Linked DNA regions of Homo sapiens. The protein of the gene in region 7 purifies or fractionates together with the protein of the main gene of each other region. This does not show direct contact. Each region holds a gene or a part of one and is shown on either strand. Other genes may lie near its edges.

What was found.
Region 1: the proteins of CTDP1 (region 7) and EPB41L5 purify together in Homo sapiens (affinity purification with mass spectrometry; one large-scale study listed by BioGRID and IntAct). This does not show direct contact.
Region 2: the proteins of CTDP1 (region 7) and ABCB7 purify together in Homo sapiens (affinity purification with mass spectrometry; one large-scale study listed by BioGRID and IntAct). This does not show direct contact.
Region 3: the proteins of CTDP1 (region 7) and SFXN4 purify together in Homo sapiens (affinity purification with mass spectrometry; one large-scale study listed by BioGRID and IntAct). This does not show direct contact.
Region 4: the proteins of CTDP1 (region 7) and ITPR1 purify together in Homo sapiens (affinity purification with mass spectrometry; one large-scale study listed by BioGRID and IntAct). This does not show direct contact.
Region 5: the proteins of CTDP1 (region 7) and AKAP13 purify together in Homo sapiens (affinity purification with mass spectrometry; one large-scale study listed by BioGRID and IntAct). This does not show direct contact.
Region 6: the proteins of CTDP1 (region 7) and ACAD9 purify together in Homo sapiens (affinity purification with mass spectrometry; one large-scale study listed by BioGRID and IntAct). This does not show direct contact.

The regions. Positions count from the first base shown.
Region 1 is NC_000002.12:120,075,577-120,079,076, forward strand, and holds part of EPB41L5 (band 4.1-like protein 5), read left to right. Parts: intron 1-124; coding exon 125-177; intron 178-1,394; coding exon 1,395-1,515; intron 1,516-1,652; coding exon 1,653-1,740; intron 1,741-2,916; coding exon 2,917-3,005; intron 3,006-3,500. UniProt on the Homo sapiens protein: Plays a role in the formation and organization of tight junctions during the establishment of polarity in epithelial cells.
Region 2 is NC_000023.11:75,146,284-75,149,783, forward strand, and holds part of ABCB7 (iron-sulfur clusters transporter ABCB7, mitochondrial), read right to left. Parts: intron 1-3,500. UniProt on the Homo sapiens protein: Exports glutathione-coordinated iron-sulfur clusters such as [2Fe-2S]-(GS)4 cluster from the mitochondria to the cytosol in an ATP-dependent manner allowing the assembly of the cytosolic iron-sulfur (Fe/S) cluster-containing proteins and participates in iron homeostasis.
Region 3 is NC_000010.11:119,159,215-119,162,714, forward strand, and holds part of SFXN4 (sideroflexin-4), read right to left. Parts: intron 3,201-3,500; coding exon 3,126-3,200; intron 1,868-3,125; coding exon 1,841-1,867; exon of another isoform or gene 1,756-1,840; coding exon 1,701-1,755; intron 540-1,700; coding exon 514-539; intron 1-513. UniProt on the Homo sapiens protein: Mitochondrial amino-acid transporter. Does not act as a serine transporter: not able to mediate transport of serine into mitochondria.
Region 4 is NC_000003.12:4,671,348-4,674,847, reverse strand, and holds part of ITPR1 (inositol 1,4,5-trisphosphate-gated calcium channel ITPR1), read right to left. Parts: intron 1,713-3,500; coding exon 1,461-1,712; intron 647-1,460; coding exon 505-646; intron 1-504. UniProt on the Homo sapiens protein: Inositol 1,4,5-trisphosphate-gated calcium channel that, upon inositol 1,4,5-trisphosphate binding, mediates calcium release from the endoplasmic reticulum (ER).
Region 5 is NC_000015.10:85,383,603-85,387,102, reverse strand, and holds part of AKAP13 (A-kinase anchor protein 13), read right to left. Parts: intron 3,428-3,500; exon of another isoform or gene 3,368-3,427; intron 3,041-3,367; exon of another isoform or gene 2,993-3,040; intron 2,897-2,992; exon of another isoform or gene 2,706-2,896; intron 1-2,705. UniProt on the Homo sapiens protein: Scaffold protein that plays an important role in assembling signaling complexes downstream of several types of G protein-coupled receptors.
Region 6 is NC_000003.12:128,910,620-128,913,614, reverse strand, and holds the end of ACAD9 (complex I assembly factor ACAD9, mitochondrial), read right to left. Parts: intron 2,875-2,995; coding exon 2,802-2,874; intron 1,109-2,801; coding exon 1,008-1,108; 3' UTR 501-1,007; downstream 1-500. UniProt on the Homo sapiens protein: As part of the MCIA complex, primarily participates in the assembly of the mitochondrial complex I and therefore plays a role in oxidative phosphorylation.
Region 7 is NC_000018.10:79,714,303-79,717,802, forward strand, and holds part of CTDP1 (RNA polymerase II subunit A C-terminal domain phosphatase), read left to right. Parts: intron 1-188; coding exon 189-1,226; intron 1,227-3,232; coding exon 3,233-3,374; intron 3,375-3,500. UniProt on the Homo sapiens protein: Processively dephosphorylates 'Ser-2' and 'Ser-5' of the heptad repeats YSPTSPS in the C-terminal domain of the largest RNA polymerase II subunit. This promotes the activity of RNA polymerase II.

The DNA.
Region 1 (3,500 bases), on a different chromosome or scaffold from region 7:
TTTTGAAAATAAGTTTATAGTTGTAAAAAAGAAATGGTCAACATAAAACATGTATTATTTTCATTTGTCTTAAAATGAAGGTTATGAAATCAACTTGTCTAACAAACTTGTGTTTTGGTCTCAGATTAGACTGTCCCTTTGATACAGCAGTGCAATTGGCAGCTTATAATCTGCAAGGTAAGCAATTCTTATGTTGACTGTTAAGACTCAAGTATAATCTTTTTTGTGTGTGTTTTTAGTTAAAGAAGATTCTAATTATGTGCAAGAAAAGAAACAACACTGTTTTTGTATAAACTTGTATCAGGGTCCAACTCTGACTTTTACTTGTTTTAGAACATTGCCTTCTTTTTCTTCTCTTTCATGTAATTGCGCCCTTTCCACCTAAAGTGTTGAAACGTCATACTCTACCTGATAAGTCTGTAAATGCTAAGATTGGGCCTTCGGCTAACTTTTTCCTTAAAAGAAATGCAGTTATGTAGGAGTGAATTGTTGGTGAAGCCATATAGCTTAGCAGTCCTTTTGCTCCAAACCTACATTTTGTTCAGAAATAACCACAGATGAGTACATACATGTTTGTGCATTGTTCAGATTTTTCCCTGCTGCTTTCTCCCCCCGATTTTTTTTAGTTCCTTTCAGTTATTTCTTTAGGATTAATAATTTTAAAATTTTGGAAGACAGGGACTATATTTAGATTGGTATATGGGGTCATATTCAGTGTATATCAGTATATTCTTTTGTTTTGTTTTTTTTTGAGACAGGGTCTCACTCTTGTCCCCAGGCTAGAGGGCAGTTGCATGATTGTAGCTCTCTGAAGCCTTGAACTACTGGGCTCAAACGATCTTCCTGCCTGAGTAGCTGGGTCTACAGGCCATTAGGCCTGGCTAATTTTTGTACTTTTTTTTTTTTTTTTTTTTTTTTTTAGAGACGAGGTCTTGCTATGTTGCCTAGACTGGCCTGAAACCATCTTCCACCTCAGCCCTCCCAAAGTACTGTGACTATAAGCATGAACCACCACACCCAGCCTTAGTAATATTCTTAATAGATGCCAGTTAATTGTCTTTTAACGATTGCTAAATTTTTTCATTTATTCACTATAAGGTCAGAGGTATTTCTTTATGGAAGTCTAGAAAGCAGTTTTCAAAGGTTAAGTAAGCACTGAAGTGTGAATACATTAAGAGAAAGATATGTAATTAAAAATACACTACCAAAAATAAATATGAGATATATGTGTATGACTAATATGCCAGATTTACTTTTGGAGACTTGTCTGAGTATTATGAATTTTTGTAAGAAATTCCTAAGAATCTTTCTAATCTTAGCAGTTTTCATTAATGAAATGGTTTTTGAAGGATTTAGCAGGAAATACATATAACTTTTGAAACTTATGTTTATAGCTGAACTTGGTGACTATGATCTTGCTGAGCATAGTCCTGAACTTGTCTCAGAGTTCAGATTCGTGCCTATTCAGACTGAAGAGATGGAACTGGCTATTTTTGAGAAATGGAAGGAATACAGGTATCTGGCGTTTGACCATACTTTCTTTAAAATCACCACAACAGTTATTTCATATTCATTTTCTTCTGTTTCTATCCTTGGTATAGAATTTATTTTATATTTATTGTTACTTTAAAAATCATTGTTTTAAATTTCAGAGGTCAAACACCAGCACAGGCTGAAACCAATTATCTGAATAAAGCCAAATGGCTAGAAATGTATGGGGTTGATATGCATGTGGTCAAGGTAAGCATTGTGTTGTGATGCTTTTTTAAAAATTTATTCTTTGGAGGTTCGCAGTGACTGTGGAATTTTTCAGTATGAGGGAGGGCATGGAGTTTGCATAAGCTAGCACTGGGTACTTTGGATGTATGGTTAAAAAGTTTGAGATTAAATACCAAATGACTAGAATCTCACAGAAAGGTTCATTATAAGAAAGAAGAGAAGCAACCAACATCCCTAACAAGGTACTTGGTCCTTTTAAGCTGTTATTTTATTTTATTTTATTTTTTTGCTATAAAAAATTGTTTTAAGCTTTTGAGCCATTTGTTATCCTTTTTACTTCCTGTTATACGACTTACACTGAGTAGGCTCTGTTAAAATAATTCAGGATGCAAAGTTGAAGATTTATAGCTTAAAGACTTTGATAAACTTTAGAACAGCTTTGTAGTGATTTAAGTTATTTCTAGTTTAACTAGTAACATTTTTCCAGAAAGGCGGTTGTATTAGTTCATTCTCGCACTGCTATAAAGACATAAATTTATAAAGAGGTTCAATTGGCTCATGGTTTTGCAGGCTGTACAGGCTTCTCCCTCTCAGGAGGCCTCAGGAAACTTATAATCATTGGGCAACGTGAAGGGCAAACAGGCACATCTGTACATGGCTGGCAGGAGGGAGAGAGAGCAAAGAGGGAGGTGCTACACACTTTCAGACAACCAGATCTTGTGAGAACTCATTCACTATCATGAGAACAGCAAGGGGGAAGTCCGTCTCCATGATTCAGTCACCTCCCACCAGGCCCCTCCTCCAATACTGGGGATTACAATATGACACAAGATTTGGGTGTAGACATAGAGCCAAACCGTATCAGCAGTCTTTTCCAAAATACATGATTTAAGTGGTAAGTATAATATGGGAAGAATGTGGAAACAGCTTTGTTTGTAGTGGGAGTGTAACTACCCACTTTCAATGAAGATACACTTTAAAACTCTAGTGTTTCAATGACTAGAAATAAAAATATATGCATAAATTTTTCTGAGAATATTATTATGGATACTCTAATTGTTGAAAACATCTCATATATTAATATTAGCCTGTATATAATTAATACAATTCAATACAAAAATAAAATTTAAAAGTTGTGTCAATGTGAAACCTGTTTTGTACAAATAAAGCTAACACATTTTTCTCCCCTTAAATTAGGCTAGAGATGGGAATGACTATAGTTTGGGACTAACACCAACAGGAGTCCTTGTTTTTGAAGGAGATACCAAAATTGGCTTATTTTTTTGGTAAGCAAGAGTTATTGTCAAAGATACTTACTGTTGTTTTGGTTTTTAATGAGTAAATAAAGTTAATACATAAACAAGTTTGGAAATCAAATAGTTTTGAAAAACTTGTCAATGAAAGCAACTGTCTCCTGTCACACTATTACGCATCATTATTCCTACTCTCCAGAGGCAATTATTAAAACTCTTCTAGCTGTATTTCCCATTAGTTTCAAAGTATACCACAATCTATATCTTGATATAAATATTTATATTTTTATATGTATCAGATGTTCACATGGGCACTTTCTCCCTCCATGTAGTCATGTCATTGCTTTTAATATTTATTATTCCACAATCCCTTTACCCCCTATTGTGTAAGAGGAAGATACTAATATTTTTATCCCTTCTCTAAGCTGTGCTCCTTATACTGTTCCAGCTTTTATCGTTCATACTTTTAAATTACATTTATGTTTTACTTTTACATCAAGGATAGATTTTACTTGGATTTCTTGGCCA
Region 2 (3,500 bases), on a different chromosome or scaffold from region 7:
GTAATTGACATTGTTCACAGAACTAGAGACAACTATTTTAAAATCCAAATGGAAACAAAAAAGAATCCAAATAGCCAAGGCAATCCTAAGAAAAAAGAATGAAGCTGGAGGTATCACATTACCTGATTTCAAACTATACTACAAGGCTACAGTAACCAAAACCGCATGGTACTGGTACAAAAACAGACACACAGACCAATGGAACAGAATAGAGACTCCAGAAATAAGGCCTAACACCTACAACCATATCATCTTCAACAAACCTGACAAAAACAAGCAATGGGGAAAGGAGTCCTTATTCAATAAATGGTGCTGGGATAACTGGCTAGCCACAGGCCGAAGATTGAAACTGGAGCCTTCCTTATACCATAAACAAAAATTAACTCAAGATGGATTAAAGACTTACATGTAAAATCCAAAAGTATAAAAACCATGGAAGACAACCTAAGTAATACCATTCAGGACAGAGACACGGGAAAAGATTTCATGACAAAAACAACAAAAGCAACTGCAACAAAAGTAAAAATTGACAAATGAGGTCTAATTAAACTAAAGAACTTCTGCATAGCAAAAGAAACTGTCAACAGAGTAAGCAGACAACCTATAGAATGGGAGAAAATTTTTGCAAATTATGCGTCCAACAAAGCTCTAATAATATCCAGCATCTATAAGGAACTTAAACAAATTTACAAGAAAAAAAAACATAAAGTGGACAAAGTATATGAAAAAAACACTTTTCCAAAGAAGACATACATGCAGCCAACAAGCACACAAAAAAAAAAATGCTCAACATCACTAATCATTAGAGAAATGCAAATCAAAATCACAACAAAACACCACCTAACACCAGTCAGAATGGCTAGTATTAAAAAGTCAAAAAATAACAGATGCTGGTGAGGTTATGAAGAAAAAGGAACACTTATATGCACTGTTGGTGGGAGTGTAAATTAGTTCAACTACTGTGGAGAGCAGTGTGGCAATTCCTCAAAGAATGAAAAACAGAATTACCATTTGACCCAGCAATCCTATTACTGGGTATGTACCCCAAGGAATATAAATCATTCTATTATAAAGACACATGCATGCGTATGTTCATTGCAGTACCATTCACAATAGCAAACACATGGAATCAACCTAAATGCCTATCAATGACAGACTAGATAAAGAAAATGTGGTACAAATATATCATGGAATACTATGCAGCCATAAAAAAGAACAAAATCACGTCCTTTGCAGTGACATGGCTGGAGCTGGAGGCCATTATCCTTAGCAAATTAACACAGGAACAGAAAACTAAGTACTACATGTTCTCACTTACAAGTAGGAGCTAAATGATGAGAACACATAGACACATACAAGGAAACAACACACACTGGGGCCTATCAGAGGGTGGAAGGTGGAAGAAGGGAGAGGATCAGAAAAAATAACTAATGGCTACTAGGCTTAATACCTGGGTGATAAAATAATTTGTACAACAAACCTCCATGACATAAGTTTACCTATGTAACAAACCTGCACATGTACTCCTGAACTTAAAATAAAAGTTACAAGGCCAGGCGTGGTGGCTCAGGCCTGTAATCCCAGCACTTTGGAAGGCCGAGGTGGGCGGATCACCTGAGGTCAGGAGTTCGAGACTAGCCTGGCCAACATGGCGAAACCCTATCTCTACTAAAAATACAAAAATTAGCCAGGTGTGGTGGTGTGCGCCTGTAATCCCAGCTACTTGGGAGGCTGAGGCAGGAGAATCGCTTGAACCTGGGAGGCAGAGGTGGCAGTGAGCCAAGATTGTGCCACTGCATTCCAACCTGGGTGACAGAGCACAACTCCATCGCAAAAAAATAAAAAATAAAAAATAAACAAATAAAATAAAAGTTACAGAGATGATAAAATGCATTACTACTAGCAGACAAAACAAATTGGACTTCAAATAAATGAACATAATATAACCTACTCAAAAAGGTCAGTTCATCAATTGAAAAGCTTAAACATGAAATATTTTTCTCATTGTAAAAACAAGTACAGTATATCAAACTATGTCTGTGTATCCATAATAGCAAATTAAATTTTTTTTGTTTGTTTTTTAGCATCCCAAACCCCCCCCCAACCCCCGAGGTAACCACTTTTACCAGACTGGAGTATATCTTTCCAATTTTCTATGTATTTGCATATACATACACACACATACAAACACATACACACATTGTTATGGTCTGAACTGTGTACTCCCCACCCCCACAAATTTATATGTTGAAGTCCTAACCTCTAATACTTCAGAATGTGACTATATTTGGAAACAGGGCCCTTAAAGAGGTAATTAAAGTTCAATGAGGTCATTAAGGTGGGCCTTAATCCAATATGACCAGTATACTTCTAAGAAGAGGATATCAGGACACAGACACAAACAGTGGAAAAGACAGTGTGAAGACAGAGGTATAAGATGGCCATCTACATGCCAAGGAGAGAGACCTCAGAAGAAATCAACTCTACTGACACCTTCATCTTGGACTTCATGGGTTCCAGAACTGTGAGAAAATACATTTCTGTTGTATAAGCCACCCAATCTGTGGTGTTATGGCAAACGTAGCAGGCAAGCACACATGTACATGCACAGTTATTAAGTCACTACAGTCAGAGTAGTTGAAGAAAGAGTTCATACTTAGCAAACATTCATGCACTCAAAAATATGAATATATTACAATATTATAGTATAAGTTACTCAAGATCAGTAAAAACAATTTTATAAGTAAACCAAAATCGAAGCTTCACCTTGTCTTTTTCTAATATGCTTTGAAAAGCAGAAGTTTAAAAGTTGCTCTCCCAAAACATCAGCACCTAAGGAACTATACCCTTAGGATGCGGTTTCCCTACTTTAATATCCATCCCTCTCTAGATATTGTAAAGAAAACTTAATCAGAGGACTAATGAACATCCCAAAATACAGTGTGCAGTTAAAATTTCTACAAACAGCAAATTTTTATATCTTATTCCTCAAAGAATGTTATCCTGTAAGTCACTTTATCTTAGCAAATGATGCTCACAAATAAAGTAACTCAAAAATTTTAGGATAAAAAGTAAGTGTGCTTTGGTTATTGAACTAAAACTGACAACAATCAGTGATGCTACTCCACCACGGTACCATATGCCTAATGACAGAAATGCAACGGACAAACTTATGAGGTTGCCCTGAAGAAAGTTAGCTTTCAATTCCAAATGTATAGCAGTGGAGCAAATATTATTAATTATTATGTTAGATTTTTGCTTTGGTTTGGTTATAGAGTTTAATCATTCATTTTACATATATTTTCTGATTACCTATTACATGTAACATACCGTGCCTAGCTCTGTGGAAGATAAAAACAAAAAGATGATTGGAATATATTAGCATTTTAGGCACATAAAATCTTATCTCCTCCACAAGATACATAACTACTTGTAGGAAAAAGTGTTGTAGGAGTTCAGAGGAGGGAGAAATCAAAGTCTTATTAGCTTATAAGGAATGG
Region 3 (3,500 bases), on a different chromosome or scaffold from region 7:
GGTTGCAGCGAGCTGAGATTGCGCCAGTGCACTCCAGCCTGGGCAACAGAGCCAGACTCTGTCTCGAAAAACAAAAAAAACCCAAAAAACCAAAAAGCACCTCCCAAGGGCCAAGGTGAGAAAAGCCTCACAGGGACAATGCCAGGTCCCAGGTGAGGGGCTGTGTCAGAGGAGGACTTGGTGGCCAGGGGTTTGTGCAGGGAGCTCATCCTAACTCACTGGCCGCTTCTACCGTGCTCTGCGCATACTTGGTGTTCAGAAAAGGGATGACCTTGCCAAGCTGTGGGCCTTCCAGAGGCCCGGATGCCTGACTGGGAGGGTGTGGGGAGGGGGAGGGAGTGGGGACAAGGACGTATGAACAGCAGCCATGGGTTATCAGTGGGGATCCACAACCATCTATCAGGCAGTCATGTGACAGGGGTCCGGAGCTGGAGGGACACAGCTGAGGTTAGGAGGAGAGTGGCCATCTTCCCAAGCCCCTAGTCTCCTAACGGCAAATGTCTGCTTGCTCACCGTGGGTGCCATGAAAGGCAGGAACGCTGGCAGGAAGAGAAGAGAGGAGGTGTCAGTGATCACAGTTGCCCAGGCAGAGGGGGCCAGAAGGGGACTACCCACCTGAACACCTCTTCCCCAGCTTCCAGAAGGCACAGACCTCAAAGGACTTTTTCCACTCATTCTTTGTTTTTCTAATAAAGTGGGGGGTCAAGGTCTCAGCACTTTGGTAGGCTGAGGCTGGAGGATGGGTTGAGGCCAGGAGTTCGAGACCAGCCTCTATTTTGTAGAGGTAGCGAGACCCCCACCTCCATAAAAAATTTAAAGCCAGGTGTGGCGGCATGACCCTGTAGTCCCAGCTACTCAGGAGGCTGAGGTAGAAGGATCAGCTGAGCCTGGGAGTTGGAGGCTGCTTTGAGCTATTATGGTGCTACTGTACTCCAGCCTGGGTAACAGAGCGAGACCCTGTCTCTAAAAATGACAATAATAATAAAGTATGTACATAAAATTACTATAACATGGCCAGGCACAGTGGCTCACGCCTGTAATTCCAGCACTTTGGGAGGCCAAGTGGGCGGATCAGAAGGTCAGGAGTTCGAGACCAGCCTGGCCAACATAGTGAAACCCTGTCTCTACTAAAAATACACAAAGGAAAAAAATTAGCTGGGCATGGTGGCAGGCACCTGTAATCCCAGCTACTCAGGAGGCTGAGGCAGGAGAAATCACTTGAACCTGGGAGGCGGAGGTTGTAGTGAGCCGAGATTGTGCCACTGAACTCCAGCCTAGGTGACAGAGCAAGACACTGTTTCAAAAAAAAAAAAAAAGAAAGAAATCCTGCTGGGGGAGAAATAATTAAAGCAAGGCAGGCAGAGTTTTCTTTTCTTTTTTTTTTTTTTTTTGGACACGGAGTTTCACTCTTGTTGCCCAGGCTGGAGCGCAATGGCATGATCTCAGCTCACTGCAACCTCCGGCTCCCGGGTTCAAGTTCAAGCAATTCTCCTGCCTCAGCCTCCTGAGTAACTGGGACTACAGGCACGTGCCACCACAATGCCCAACTAATTTTTTACATTTTTAGTAGAGACGGGGTTTCACCATGTTGGCCAGGCTGGTCTCGAACTCCTGACCCCAGGTGATCCGGCAGGCAGAGTTTTCTAAGTGTTAGAAACTACATCTTCCCAACCCACTTCTGAAAATTAGAACCAACTCACCTGCAGGTCGAAAAAGCTTGGGGATCAGGTTGCTGCTGTCGGGATGCACTGTTGCCTTCAAAAGGAGAGATGCAAGGTTAGCTGGATGTCTGGTTTTGTTATTATAGGACACTAAAAATTAGGAAGGGGCTGAAACTTACAAGACTCCGCTTCCAAGCTTCTTGTATCTTAAAGGAGAAAAAAGAATAGCTTTGTTTCATTTTAAATTTTTTTTAAGAGACAAGGTCTTGCTCTGTCACCCAGGGCTGGGGTATAGTGGCACAATCATCACTCACTGCAGAACAGCCTCGAACTACTGGGTTCAAACGATCCTCCCACCTCACCCTCCTGAATAGCTGAAACTACAGGCTCACGCCACCATTCCCAACTAGTTGTTTAATTTTTAGTAGAGATGGGGTCTTGCTATACGGCCCAGGCTGGTCTTGCAGTCTTGGCATCAAGTCATCCTCCCAAACCATTGGAATTACAGGGTTAAGCCATCACACCCAGCCTTAAAAAAACAACAACAACAACAAAAAAAAACAAAAAAAAAAAAAAAGCTTTTAAAGGTGGCTCAACAGCAAAGAATTTCTTTGCCTGTCTCATTTCTGGGACCACATTTGTTCTACCTTTCAGAGAGTGAAGGCCAGAGCTGTTATTTACCACATTGACAGAACAAATCAAAATAAATGGATCATATGAATAAACAAATGAACTAATGACAAGCAAAGAGACGAGCCACACAGAGAAATGGACCAGAACATTAAAAAGTCCTGTCTCTACCCTTGGAGAATACCAACACCTAACTTATCCCTCAGATGAGTCCCCGAATCCGGCTTGCCTCTGGCTCAGAGCAGAGCAGGCTGTGTGCTGATGACACACCATGCCATCAGTCAAGTTACTTGCAACAGAGCCAAGCTGTCAGCCCAGGGTCCCCAGCACATTCTTAGAAAAAGTTAAATATGTGAGCTCTCCATAGGCTGTCTTGAGGAGCTGGTGTTTGTGAGCTCCAGAAAGCCCCACATACTGCAAGGTAGATAAGGAACAGTCCGTTTGAGCCTATCGGCAGGAACGCTGCCTGCAGTGGAGAATGAATTCTGACGTCAGAGCCCTGTCTGAATTCTGGGGTTTGCCACTGGGCTCCAGGAATCAGCTGCAGGGAATCCCCACAAATATCCACTGTGTAGGAGGAAACTTGCTGTCTGGTTTATGGGACAGAATTCTAACTACATTTAAAAAACTAACCCAGTTTTGCAAAGCTGGTCCTCTGGGCAGTATATAACAATGACAGCATTAATAGCCAATAGAACAGTGGCTCCCAAGGGAAGGAAAAAAGAAAGAAAAGAGACGGAGACAGAGATTAATGGCCAAATTCCACCTGACTTCAGACCATGCAGGCAGAACCATCTGAGGGCAACCAGCCAGACCTGAGCACGTGAAACATACCCTTTGGTCCGCCGAGGCAGGGCTGGAAACATCTTCATTTGTGCACAATAGTTGCCTCGAGTTTTCTATACTTTCCTAAAATCAGATATCAAGTAATCAAGTAATGATCTCAACATTGTTCAGGTTTATCCCCAGAGGTAGGAATCACCAGCTCACTCACCAGCATGCACTGGACTTCGACTGCATGCCTGATTTCAAGCCACATGGTGCCCTAGGCTCTCTATCCATTAGGATAGCCCTGAGTGCCATTCAGATTTATGCCTTCCTCTTCCTAGATGCTCCAGCAGCTGCCCCCAATGGTGCTGTCACCTCCCCCACTCTCTGATGTCAACTGTCGCACTGAATGGTTACCACCATCCCCTGGCTATACATGTC
Region 4 (3,500 bases), on a different chromosome or scaffold from region 7:
AAAAAAAAAAGACCTCATCATTTGCTCTACACAGCTTCCCAAGGATAATATTAACACCAGGCAAGCAGAGTTATTCCCAATAAGGACACAGATAATAACACTCTGCGATCCTCAGCAATACAGCTCTTAAAAGGCAAAAGCAGTCTCAGAAACGTTGTTAACTCAGAAGTAACAAGGATTTATGTTCTGCAAATGATTAAGCTATGGCAGATTGCAAGCACAGTGTTTCTCTCTTGTCAGTTTTAACACAAAGTGATGTTCTATCATTTTATGTGGTTCAAGTCACCTTGTATATTTCTTTTAAGCCCATAACTACTATTAAGCCATGTGACTGGTATCCGTTTTATTTTATTCTGGAACAAAACCAAGCTGAATTCCTTTCCATTACAAAACCAGAGCATCATGACCAAAATCACAACCTACTCACATATTTTCTATTTGCCCCATAGAAAAATGACCACTGAGAGGCAGATAATACACATAGAAGATTTCATCATGAGTTACCTCAAACGTAAGCTTATTCTTCTCTTTATCAGAGAAAGGGAACCTCTGACAAACCACATCTCTTAAATACTCCTCCACAAACTCCATGGTCTGAGCAAATCTCTCCTTAATTTCATCTTTGGAAGCTCCACTACTATCATAGCTGAAAAGAAAGGAGAAAGAAAGGAAACAAAATTTCAAGTTATTCCCAGAGAGGTCTTCCTGGGTCACTCAGCTTCAAAAGTCAACATCCCCTAACCCTTGGCATCCCTTGACCCTACTTTATTTTTTCCCTCCTTAGCATATATCACCAACTATATATTTGAGTCGTTTATCTTGCCTATTGTCTGTCTTCCACCAACTAGCATAGAGATTGCTTTCTAGTTTGTTCACTGATATATTTCTTGAGCTTGGCACATAGTACACACTTAAATATTTGCAGAATGAAAGAGGAGATAAATGAGATATAAAAAATACAATCGGGGCCAGGCGCGGTGGCTCACGCCTGTAATCCCAGCACTTTGGGAGGCCGAGGTGGACGGCTCACAAGGTCAGGAGATCGAGACCGTCCTAGCTAACACGGTGAAACCCCGTCCCTACTAAAAATACAAAAAATTAGCCGGGCGTGGTGGTGGGCGTCTGTAGTCCCAGCTACTTGGGAGGCTGAGGAAGGAGAATGGCACGAACCCGGGAGGCAGAGCTTGTAGTGAGCCGAGATTGCGCCACTGCAGTTCAGCCTGGGCAACAGAGTGAGACTCCATCTCAAACAAACAAACAAACAAACAAAAACCAAAAACATAATCATGCCATCTTTCACATTCTTGAGGAAAAAAATATTTGCCATCCACTTAATTTTATTTTAAGCTTGAAGAAAAAACCAACACTTCATCTTTCTTCTAAGATTTAATGAGACCATATGGGGCTATCTACTGCCGCACAGAATAATGTAAAGTGAGGTTTTCAGGTGCCAGGCTCACTCGTCAATGGCGATCTCCGAGGGAATCTCCGACCAGAGGCGGGCATATTTCACGGGGGTGACTTGTTCCTGGGGATCTCGGTCCACATGCATGTGAAGCATGAGGCGGCAGAAGGACGCCCTGAGGTCATAGGGCAGGTTCTCGTCAGACATGCAGCGGAGAATGAGATCGACATCCAGCTGGCCTGAGATTTCGTTGATGGCCAGGTATTGGCGGTCCAGACACATCCTCGCAAAGAGGTTCAGCTGATATCTAGAGGAAGGAACAAGGGCACACAGCTCACGCTCCAGAAATCATTCAGGATGAATGAAGGGTCGTCTGGGCAGCCCTGACTGTCATGGGAGTGACATTTGGCCAACTAAACTCATACATCAACACCCCTAAATTGCTCTTGTATACCAGGATTTTGGCTTTGGTACCAAGCAGATAAAAGAACTATTCAAGCTGTGCAGTAGAGTGTGGGTTGACAGCCAACAGGAACACATGTCTATCCAGCTGTGTTGGAGCAATTATGTGACGACCTAATTCCACTAGGTCCTTAATGTTTACTTTTTAAAATAAACGGGGGGAATGCTAAGGCCTAAGATGGTTGTCTATTTCTTTCCCTTCAGCTGTGTTTTATACAGTAAAGACCATGTAGGAAATGTTCAAGATATCACACATATTCAGCCTAATTAGAAATTTTATAACATTTTAAAGATCTTATATCATGTAAGTCACTCTAATTCCTACACGTGTAAAAAAACATTTCATTTACAAAAGTAGGAGACTCCTCACTTTTCATCTTCATCCAATTGCAAGTGAATGTTGTTAACTGGAACCTGACCAATTAAGGCACTCTTTCTCATTCACTTGGGAGAAGATTCATCAAACACTGAAAGAGTAAACATACTTGAAATGTGAAATAACGAGAAAGCCACAGGCTTTCAAAATACTGCCTTCTGAATTAAAAACTCTATGTATTTCTAATAATCATGATTTGAAGACATTCTCAGCCTCATTAGATGTCGGGGAAATGCAAGTGTAGACATGAGTCTATTTCACACTTATAAAATTACCAAAAATTAAAAAGCATCATGATATTCAAGGTTAACAAAGACATGAAGAAACAAAGCTTGTCGTCTACAACTGGTGGGTGTGTACACTGACACATCCAATTTAGAATTGCTTAGTAAAGCTTAAAATATGAATATCCTCCAAGCCCACCTCCCAGTGTGGAATGGAAATTCATACATATACTCAGAAAAATTTGAATGAAGATGTTTCCTGACATGAAGAACTGCAGCATGTGATCAAATATCAAACAGCGATGAAAATGTGATAAATCAATAAAACAGAATATCATCCAACAGTCCAAATTACAGAAATGGATTAATCTCTATTAACGCAGATATATTCAATATGGCTTCAGTACCCGTATTGAATAAATAAGGCAAGTTTTAGAATGGTATTTGGAGTACAGTCCCATTTATATAAAATTTTAAGTAGAGATAAAATACTACATATGATTTACAGATGCATACAAATGCAGCACACAGAGAATGTGGATAGGATGCGTACATCACACATGAATGAAAGAACAGAATACAGGAGGCAAGAAAAGGCATTTTATCTGCAGTTTTATTTATTTTATTAAAAAATAATAAAAGCCTTGCTTTATCTTCCCTTTCCTTTTCTTTTAAAAGTATTAATTGGTTCACTTCCTTTCTTTCTTCCCCTTCCCTTCCCTTCAGGTGGCAGGACTGGCAGGTCTTACAGCTGGAGCCAAGGAGACACTGGGGACCGTGGAGGTGGGTGGCAGAGGTGAGACAGGTACACACAGGGAAACGGGCAGATGGGTAAACATACAGGGAATCGTGGCAGCTGGAGGGAGTCATGAAATGGAAAAGGTGAAGGCTAGAATAAATCCTATGGTGTTGGAATGGAATTGGAAGTATTAGTGTAAGTACATGCTTTTTATTATATATTTGTGTAGTTATAGAAAGATACATGGATGAATGTGTAGATATATGTGTATACAAACACACACATCTTCTGTCT
Region 5 (3,500 bases), on a different chromosome or scaffold from region 7:
TCAGCCTCCAAAGTGCTAGGATTACAGGCGTGAGCCACCACACCCGGCTGAGACCTCATCTTAAAAAAGAAAAAAAAGAAAAAGAAAAACCCAGCAGGACTTGTGGATAACAGCAAGATGAATCTAAAATATGCACAAAAGGCAATGCAACTAAAATACCCAAAAAACAATTCTGAAAAATAATAAGATAACTCACACTACCTGATTTTAAAACTTACTCTAAGGTGACAGTAATCAACAGTGAGGTGATAGAGAAATGAAAGACACAGATCAATGGAATAGGAGAGAGAATCCAGAAACAAAACCACACATTTATGATCAACTTGCAAAAAAAAAAAGGCACAAAGGTAATCAACAGAGAAAGGACAGTCTTTTCAAAAACTGTTGCTGGAAAAATTGTAAATCCATCCACAAAAAAATAAACTCAATGCATACCTTGCACCATTTAGGAAAATTAAATCAAAGCAGATAATAAATGTAAATATAAAATTTTAAATGATAAAACTTCTAGGCGAGCCGGGCACAATAGCTCACGCCTGTAATCCCAGCACTTTGGGAGGCTGCGGTGGGTGGCTCACTTGAGGTCAGGAGTTCAGACCACCCTGGTCAACATGGTGAAACCCCATCACTAGTAAAAATACAAAAATTAGGCATGGTGGTGGGTGCCTGTAATCCCAGCTACTCAGGAGGCTGAGGCAGGAGAATCACTTGAACCCGGGAGGCGGAGATTCCAGTGAACAAGATCTCACTCACGCCAGCCTGGATGACAGAGTGAGACTCCATCTCTAAAAAAAAAAATAATAACTTGTAGGAGGAAATATAGGGGAAAGTCTTTGAGCTCTTAAGTTAGGCAAAGATTTCTAAACTATTATACCAAAAGCATGATCCACTCAGGGAAAAAACAAAAAAACAAAAAAACACTGGATATCATAAAAATTAAGAACTTCTGCTCTTCAAAAGACATTATTAAGACAAGAAGGCCAGACACAGTGGCTCGCGCCTGTAATCCCAGCACTTTGGGAGGCCGAGGCAGGCAGATCACTTGAGGTTAGGAGTTCAAGATCAGCCTGGCCAACATGGAAAAGCCCCATCTCTACTAAAATACAAAAATTAGCTGGGTGTGGTGGTGTGTGCCTGTAATCCCAGCTACTCGGGAGGTTAAGGCAGGAGAATCACTTGAACCCAGGAGGCAGACGTTGCAGTGAGCCAAGATCTCACCACTGTACTCCAGCCTAGGTGACAGAGCCAAACTCCATCTCGAAACAAACAAACAAAAAAAGACATTATTAAGACAAGTAAAAACAGACTAGGAGAAAATATCTGCAAATCATGTATTTGATTCCAAAGTATATACAAAAACTCATTTTTTAAGCAAAAGATTTTGAATTGACATCAAAGAATGACAAATAATCAGATGAAAAGATACTTAATATCATTAGTCATTGGGCAAATGAATAAAAAGGCTACATTCCGTGTGATTCCATTTTTACAACATTCTTGAAAAGGCAAAAAACCATGGAGACAGAAAACAGATCAGCAATTTCCAGAGTCTGGGGGTAGAGAACCGGTTGAGTACAAAAGGGCTCAGAAGAATTCTGGAGGATGAAGGGACTGTCCTGTTTGCAGCAGTGGATATATGAATGTATACACCTGTCAAAACTCAGAGAATGTTACACTAAAATGGCGGAATTTTAGTGAATGTAAACTATACATATGAATAATTAAAGAATGAAAAAATAGAGACTAAAGAGACATAATGATGTGCTGAGTGAACTTTAATTTTACTCTGTCCAAAATTTTTCTTAATCAACTATAAAAGATATTTGGGAGACAAATAGAGAAAGTTGAATAGGTATTGAATAATATTATAGAATTAACGTTAATCTTTCTTGTTGTGAATAACTGCAGTTGGTTATGTAGAAAAAGGGTCAGCAAACTTCTGTAAAAGCCCAGATAGTAAATATTTTCTGCTTTGCAGATCACATGGTCTCTGTTGTAACTACTCAACTCTGCTACTATAGCACCAAAGTAGCCAGAGAAGAGCTTACAGAGTGACATAAATGGTCAAAAACCTCACACGTTTTCCTTCTCTCCCATACTAGCACCCATATCATACAAACACACTGATATCCACATTCCCCAGGCACTGAACACAGCATTGCCCCACACAAATGTTCATACAATCACGGTATTTCAGTACCAGGTCCATCCTTACAGCAAGGTCTGACAAAAACACATTATCCATTCATCTTCTATTCATAACGTCACAATCAACTTGTAGGTGGACGAGAAAACTATAAATATGAGGACAAACGCAGGAAACAAACTTTCTTCCACTGACCAGTGAGGACAGATGCATGAAACAAACCTTTTTTTTTTTTTTTTTCAGACGGAGTCTCGCTCTGTCGCCCAGACTGGAGCACAGTGGCATGATCTCGGCTCATTGCAACCTCCACCTCCCGGGTTCAAGCGATTCTCCTGCCTCAGCCTCCCAAGTAGCTGGGATTACAGGCACCTGCCACCCTGCCGGGCTAGTTTTTGTATTTTTAGTAGAGATGTGGTTTCACCATGTTGGCCAGGCTGGTCTTGAACTCCTGACCTCAAGTGATCCGCCCGCCTCAGCCTCCCAAAGTGCTGGGATTACAGGCGTGAGCCACTGCGCCAGGCTATGAAACAAACTTTCTTCCACCCACAGCTTTCTCGTCTCTCCCCATTTACAGCAGTAAGACAGCCTAACCTGGGAAAGAGAGAGGGAAGCTACTTCCAAATGGATGCCTGTCCCCATCAGTAATAACCAAGTCTATTCAAGTGCCAGATGTTAACTTTAAAAGAAGGGAACATCAAAAGTCCAACTTTCTTCGCCTAGCTTTGTCAGGAATGTTTTTACCCTCAATCTGTAAGTGTGACCAACTGTAATTTTTAAAGGTTTATCCTCAATCTGTAAGTTTGATCAAATATAATTTTTAAAGGTTTACTATAATCTCTTCATCAGAAAACTAATGGAAAGATGGAATAAAATCTAAAGAAATGTCCTTAACAGGTAAATATTTCTAGAATGTATCTACTCCATCTAGGTAGTGTAAGTATTCTAAACTATGCTAGTATAACTGATTTAAATCACTGCCTTCTTCTGTAAATGGTGTCACCTTTAAAGTGTTATCTTGAAGAGGAAGTGAGTGATTTGCTCATGTCTCTGTACTGAACTAACACTGTTAACACCCAGTCCAGCTCTACCTTAAACAAGTTTGAGAAATACAGACACAATCCACACTTATTTGCCAAGACTAAGGTAAAATAAAGTTGGAACTCATATCCTCTTATGACTGATGTACTGAAAACAATCCATCTCTCACTGTTGCCCAAATAGCATAGTCACAAAGAGCTCTACCCTACCAAGCCACTCTGCAAGTCCCACTCTCAAAGGAAGACTCACAGGTGACTGAGAAGATAAACTCGCTATTGTTTCCATTATCCTTCAGTTCATCTGGCACCTTTGAAGA
Region 6 (2,995 bases), on a different chromosome or scaffold from region 7:
ACTTGGAGGAAAAAGAGTCGGCTGCCTTCTCTGTGCTCAAGGGAGTGTCCACAATAGGCATTTTAGAGCTCCAGACCACCCAAGGACCACATCAAAGCTTAAAGTTCACCACAGTGAGCACGCTGGGACCTGGTGTAATCTTTCAAGTGCCAGCAGAAGGGAGGCTGGAGAAATGCAAAGGCCTGCTGGCCTGGAGATACCATTCATCCTCTCCTCAAGAGTAGAAGCCAGTTCTTGTAAAGAAACTAAAGTCCCTAGGTGGGAACATCATCAGCTGAGACAGCCTCCCCATCATCTCCTGAGAAGGATAAAAACTAAGGGCTCATAACCCCAAGGGATTGTGGCCTGCACTGTGTGTCTGCTCCTTAGCATTCTGGGCCCTCCTTGCAGGGTGAGGACAAAGGGGACCCGAGGCCATCACCAAAGGGTGGTTCTCAGGGTCCTGCTGTCACCCATTAAAGGCTGGTTCTAAGGAACAGTGTGACAAGTACAGCAAAGGCTAACAGTACACAGATTGTGACATTTTATATTCTTTGTTAAATGGTTCCTGGTACATGTTTTAAGTGCCTCTGCTTCTAGTTTAAATGAATGACCCAGACAGAGCTTTCAAGCTGTTTCTTAGAGAATGTGTGGTTGAGCAGAAATGGCTATCCACACCTGACACAGGTCCCCACCCACCTCACACCCTGGAGGCAGCAGCATAAGCCCCAGTTTCCACTATGGTGTCTCCTCAATGACCAGAATACCCGCCAGTTCCAGGGGTCAGCAATTCCATTCTCTCTCTCCGGCTCAGTTCAGAAGCTGTGATGGTCCTGTTAGAGAGCACTGCCTGCAGGTCAAAACCTGGAAGAGGCTCTCCCAGGCCAGGCGACAACCCTTCAGGTGCAGACGGGGAACAAAAGGCTTAACCTGTGATAATCCCAACACCTTCTGAAAAAAGAGTAACAGTCATCCAGCAACGGGCCATGGGTAGGGGCGGGCGGTAGCAGGGGACACTGTCCCCTGCCTCAGCATGTCCTGTCCAGAGGGTGGGCACAGATATAGGCTCGCTTCTCAAGGATCTGCTGGGACACTTTCTTAATCTGCTCATCTAGGTTTTCTGGAGCATCTGGGAAGGAAAAGGAGAGATGGTGGGTGATCTTTCTGCACCGTGATAAGACAAACATGGCTGAAGTGGGGGCATTTTTCCACAAAGTCAGCCCACCCACCATGAAGCAGCCCTAAGGGTGAACCCCTCCTCCAGACCCCCAGCAAGTGATTCAGGGCTGCAGGGAGAGAAAGGGGTACAGCTTCATTCTCAGTTACAAAGGACTCATCCTGCTCATCTCTAACCCCCAGATCTCATGGGGTGGAGCCGGCACTTGCTCCGTAAACAGCCCATCTGTGATTCCAGCCCACTGGAGGAGAAACCATTTCAGCACCCTCCACAGCACATAACCTGTCAGCACTGGGGGGGTGTCTGGGCTACCCCCAGGGCTAGGACCTGCAAAAAATCATATGCCACTCTCAGCAAGTGCCACAGTGCTGGCGCCTACACCCATCACTTGGCAACACGACTGGGCTTTGTGGGGACACTGATCCAGAACCTCAGGTCAACAGGACTGTGAGGGTCAGAGGTAGACTGAGCTGGGCATTCCTAGATATGGTCGAGTGGCTATAGAAGAGGAAGAGCACTGCAGACAGAGCGGGGAGCACGAGCAAAGCCCTCTGTTCTCTAGGCCAAGGCCTGAGACCTCTGCAGGGCACTGCAGGGTCATTTTGGATGGAGTACAGTGGGTAAAGGGGCAGGTAAAATGCTGTCTCCAGAATCAGGTACAACCAGATGCTCCTCCCTTCGTGAGCCTTCCCCGGGCAGCTTCAAGAATACAGCCAGGGCTGGGCACAGTGGCTCATGCCTGTAATCCCAGCACTTTGGGAGGCCAAGGTGGGCGGATCACCTGAGGTCAGGGGTTGGAGACCAGCTTGGCCAACATGGTGAAACCCTGTTTGTTTCTACTAAAAATACAAATATTAGCTGGGCATGGTGGTGCGTGCCTATAATCCCAACTACTCAGGAGGCTGAGGCACAGGAGTTGCTTGAACCCAGGAGGTGGAGGTTGCAGTGAGCCAAGATCATGCCACTGCACTCCAGCCAGCCTGGGTGACAAAGTGAGACTATGTCTCCAAAAAAAAGAGAATACAGCCAGGCATGCTGGGCAGATGCCAGGGGTCCTGCGCAAAGGGCTCTGCACTTGCTCAATCTAAAATTGCCTTGGCAGGCCCGGTGCGGTGGCTCATGCCTGTAATCCCAGCATTTTTGGAGGCTGAGGCAGGCAGATCACCTGAGGTCAGGAGTTGGAGACCAGCCTGGCTAACATGGTGAAACCCTGTTTCTACTAAAAATACAAAAAATTAGCCGGGCGTGGTGGCGTGCGCCTGTAATCCCAGCTACTCGGGAGGCTGGGGCAGAAGAATCGCTTGAACCCAAGAGGTGGAGTTTGCAGGGAGCCAAGACTGCGCCATTACACTCCAGCTTGGGCAACAAGAGCGAAACTCCATCTCGAAATAAATACATACATACATACATACACACACACACATATATACATACAACTGCCTTGGTGAATGGGGCAGGTATGCACCTACAGTGCCTGGTGGGCACTGCTGCAGCTAAGCCCAGGCCTACCCAGGCCCTCGCTCAAGGCAGAGGTCTGTGAGTAGCTAGCAGGCTCTGGGAGCTTGACAGGGTCCAGAAACAGCTCACCATCAATAGGGGCCTAGAAGTGGGCCCTTCCTTCCCTCCCCCAAGACATGCCACTCACACTTGTCCAGCTGAGAGAGGCTGAAGAGATTCTGCAAGTAAGCTTCCACGCAGAAGGTGTTGGCCAAGAGAACCTGCCAGAACCGAGGACAGAAAAGATATGCCCAAATTCCTGGAATCAGACCTCTGAGCTTCAAAAACCCAGCCTATCAGCCAAACTGGGTAGCATGGCAGGGGTCACAAGGCCTGGCACAG
Region 7 (3,500 bases):
CCCTGGTCCCACGCACTTCAGGTAAGGGGTGCTCACCCTGTCCGGCCTCTTCACAGCAAGGTTGCCAAGGCCTGGTCTAGAGGGTGGTGGACTTCACAGCCATGGAGAAGGGTGCTGCTTTAACTTGGAACGTTATTTAATGTTTAATGCTAAATTGCGGTAACTTTTCCTTTTGCATGCATATTTAGTAAATCATTCTCGAGGCACTGAGGTCTCAGAGCCATCTCCGCCCGTGAGAGACCCTGAGGGGGTAACGCAGGCCCCTGGAGTGGAGCCCAGCAATGGCCTGGAGAAGCCTGCACGGGAGCTGAACGGCAGCGAGGCCGCCACCCCGCGGGACTCACCCCGCCCCGGGAAGCCAGACGAGAGGGACATCTGGCCCCCTGCCCAGGCCCCCACCAGCAGCCAAGAGCTGGCAGGCGCTCCTGAGCCCCAGGGATCCTGTGCGCAGGGTGGCCGGGTGGCACCGGGACAGCGGCCTGCCCAGGGTGCCACGGGCACTGACCTGGACTTTGACTTATCCAGCGACAGCGAGAGCAGCAGTGAGTCCGAGGGCACGAAGTCCTCCTCCTCCGCCTCTGATGGCGAAAGCGAGGGGAAAAGAGGCCGGCAGAAGCCGAAGGCTGCCCCAGAGGGAGCCGGGGCGCTGGCACAGGGCAGTTCCCTGGAGCCGGGGCGGCCTGCAGCACCGAGTCTCCCCGGAGAGGCCGAGCCTGGCGCGCATGCCCCGGACAAGGAGCCTGAGCTGGGTGGGCAGGAGGAGGGCGAGCGGGATGGCCTCTGCGGCCTGGGCAACGGCTGTGCCGACAGGAAGGAGGCGGAGACCGAGTCACAGAACAGCGAGCTGTCGGGGGTCACTGCGGGTGAGTCCCTGGACCAGAGCATGGAGGAGGAGGAGGAGGAGGACACGGATGAGGATGACCACCTCATCTACCTGGAGGAGATCCTGGTCCGTGTACACACTGACTACTATGCCAAGTATGACCGCTACCTCAACAAGGAGATCGAGGAGGCGCCGGACATCCGCAAGATCGTGCCGGAGCTCAAGAGCAAGGTGCTGGCAGACGTGGCCATAATTTTCAGTGGGCTACACCCGACAAACTTCCCGATAGAGAAGACGCGGGAGCATTACCACGCCACGGCGCTGGGAGCGAAGATCCTCACTCGGCTGGTGCTGAGCCCCGACGCCCCTGACAGGGCCACGCACCTGATCGCCGCGCGAGCTGGTGAGTGCTGCCTCCCTGTGCCCTGGGCATGGTCAGGCCCGCGGGCTCCTTGCAGGCACTCCTTAGAGTTGGCATTGCTGTTTATCTCACTTTCAATTTTCAGAAACATTTCCCAGAATCACCATCTTTTAAGAATAGATCATGACAGTGGGTGAAATTGGAGTTTGGGCACGTTCATGCTTTCAGACCGCAGTCATCGCACACACCATTCAGGGGTGGGAGTTACTCGTGTGTAGAAAGTTCAACCTTCTCCCTGGAGTAAGCCATGGCCGGGTTGGAAAACAGGGAATCAGCGATAGGGACGTAGTGGAGAAATTCGAGGCAGGAACAGGAGTTCGCAGGTAAAAGATTGACAAACCCTCTGAGTTAGAAAACTAAATGCAAGGTTTCAGCTGAAACGTGCACAGAAGGACACGTTGTGGCTGGGAGGGCGGAGGACAGGCCTGCTGTCTCCCGACGGTGAAACCTGTCCCGGACGGGGCAGGCTGCTCTGACATGTTGAAACTTCCGCCGAATAAAACAACCTTTCAGCAATAGGTGATTCTTGAAGGAAGACTTAACACCCCGGTGCTTAAAAAACCCAAATACCTCGTTATTCTAGTTATTCTGTGAAAATGCTCCCATAAGCACCTGGATTTTCCGCGAATGAAGATTGCGGTTTTTCTCCTCCAATCTGCTTCCTGTCCTGGCGGCGTTTCCTGAGAGGGCTTCTCAGTGCGTGGCCCCGCCTCCGGGGCTCAGGAAAGCCTTGTGGGGTGAGCTCATCCCTGTCCACGCACGCTCCCTGACAGCAGGTGTGGTCTTATTTGAGGCCACGGCTCTGGCACGTATCATGGGGCGTTGGACACGCATGTGCTCAGTAAAGCATTTGAATCAAGGGTAAATGGAAGGTTCCATCTCAGTGTGAAATAGCCAGGTGCTAGCTGCAGGGCAGAGGCGGGCTTTCCGTGGAGCCCAGCGAGACCCTTGATCCCAGGAGAAAGCCAAGCCCTGGCCTCCTGTGGGCAGTCAGACCCTTCTCTCCTGAGCGTGGAGCCGGGCCAGGCCGGGGTCCTCCTTGGCCCCTCAGGTGCCTGTCTGCCCTGCCGCGTGTCTGCCCAGCTCCTGACCCTTCTCTCCTGAGCATGGAGCTGGGCCAGGCCAGGGTCCTCCTTGGCCCCTCAGGTGCCCGCCTGCCCTGTCCTGTGAGTGCCCAAGCTCCTGGCCCTTCTCTCGCATTCCTTCCTTCCCCCTGAATTGTGCTCACGTTTCCTTTTTGCTTCTGTGTACGTGGCCTCACTGTTGAGAGGCTTTGCTGAACACATGCTAAGAGAGGTCCTCCTGCTGCTCAGGTCACCCGCTGTGCCCGGCTCCCCGTCTGAGATCCACCCCTTCCCACCATGGCTGCCTATCCCTGGCCTGGCAGATGGGAACCTGCAGTGGGCAGCCCTGGTGGGGTGCAGCCGGGTGAGGGCCCTGGTGGGGTGCAGCCGAGTGAGGGCCCTGAGCCCTAGTGGGGTACAGCTGGGTAAAGGCCCTGAGTCCTGGTGGGTACAGCCGGGTGAGGGCCCTGAGCCCTGGTGGGCTGCAGCCGAGTGAGGGCCCTGAGCCCTGGTGGGGTACAGCTGGGTGAAGGCCCTGAGTCCTGGTGGGTACTGCCAGGTGAGGGCCCTGGGCCCTGGTGGGGTGTAGCCGGGTGGGGGCCCTGGTGGGGTGCAGCCGAGTGAGGGCCCTGAGCCCTGGTGGGGTACAGCTGGGTGAAGGCCCTGAGTCCTGGAGAGGTGCAGCCGAGTGAGGGCCTTGGTGGGGTGCAGCCGGGTGAGGGCCCTGGTGGGGTACAGCTGGGTGAGGGCCCTGAGCCCTGCAGGGGTGCAGTCAGGTGAAGGCCCTGGTGGGATGCAGCCGAGTGAGGGCCCTGAGCCCTGGTGGGGTACAGCCAGGTGAGGGCCCTGGTGGGTGCAGCCGGATGTGGGCCCTGAGCCTCCAGTGCTGGCCGGAACAGCCTGACGCAGCCGGGTCTCCTGCAGGCACAGAGAAGGTGCTGCAGGCACAGGAGTGCGGACACCTGCACGTGGTCAACCCTGACTGGCTGTGGAGCTGCCTGGAGCGCTGGGACAAGGTGGAGGAGCAGCTCTTCCCGCTCAGGGACGATCACACCAAGGCACAGAGGTGGGTCCTCGCTGCACCCAGCAGGTCCGTGCCAGGCGTTCCCTTGCTGGACAGCTGTTGGTTCATGCACCTGGGCAGTGCCCCTCATCACCCGGACGCCCCGCTCATGGCCCTCGTTCTCTTCCT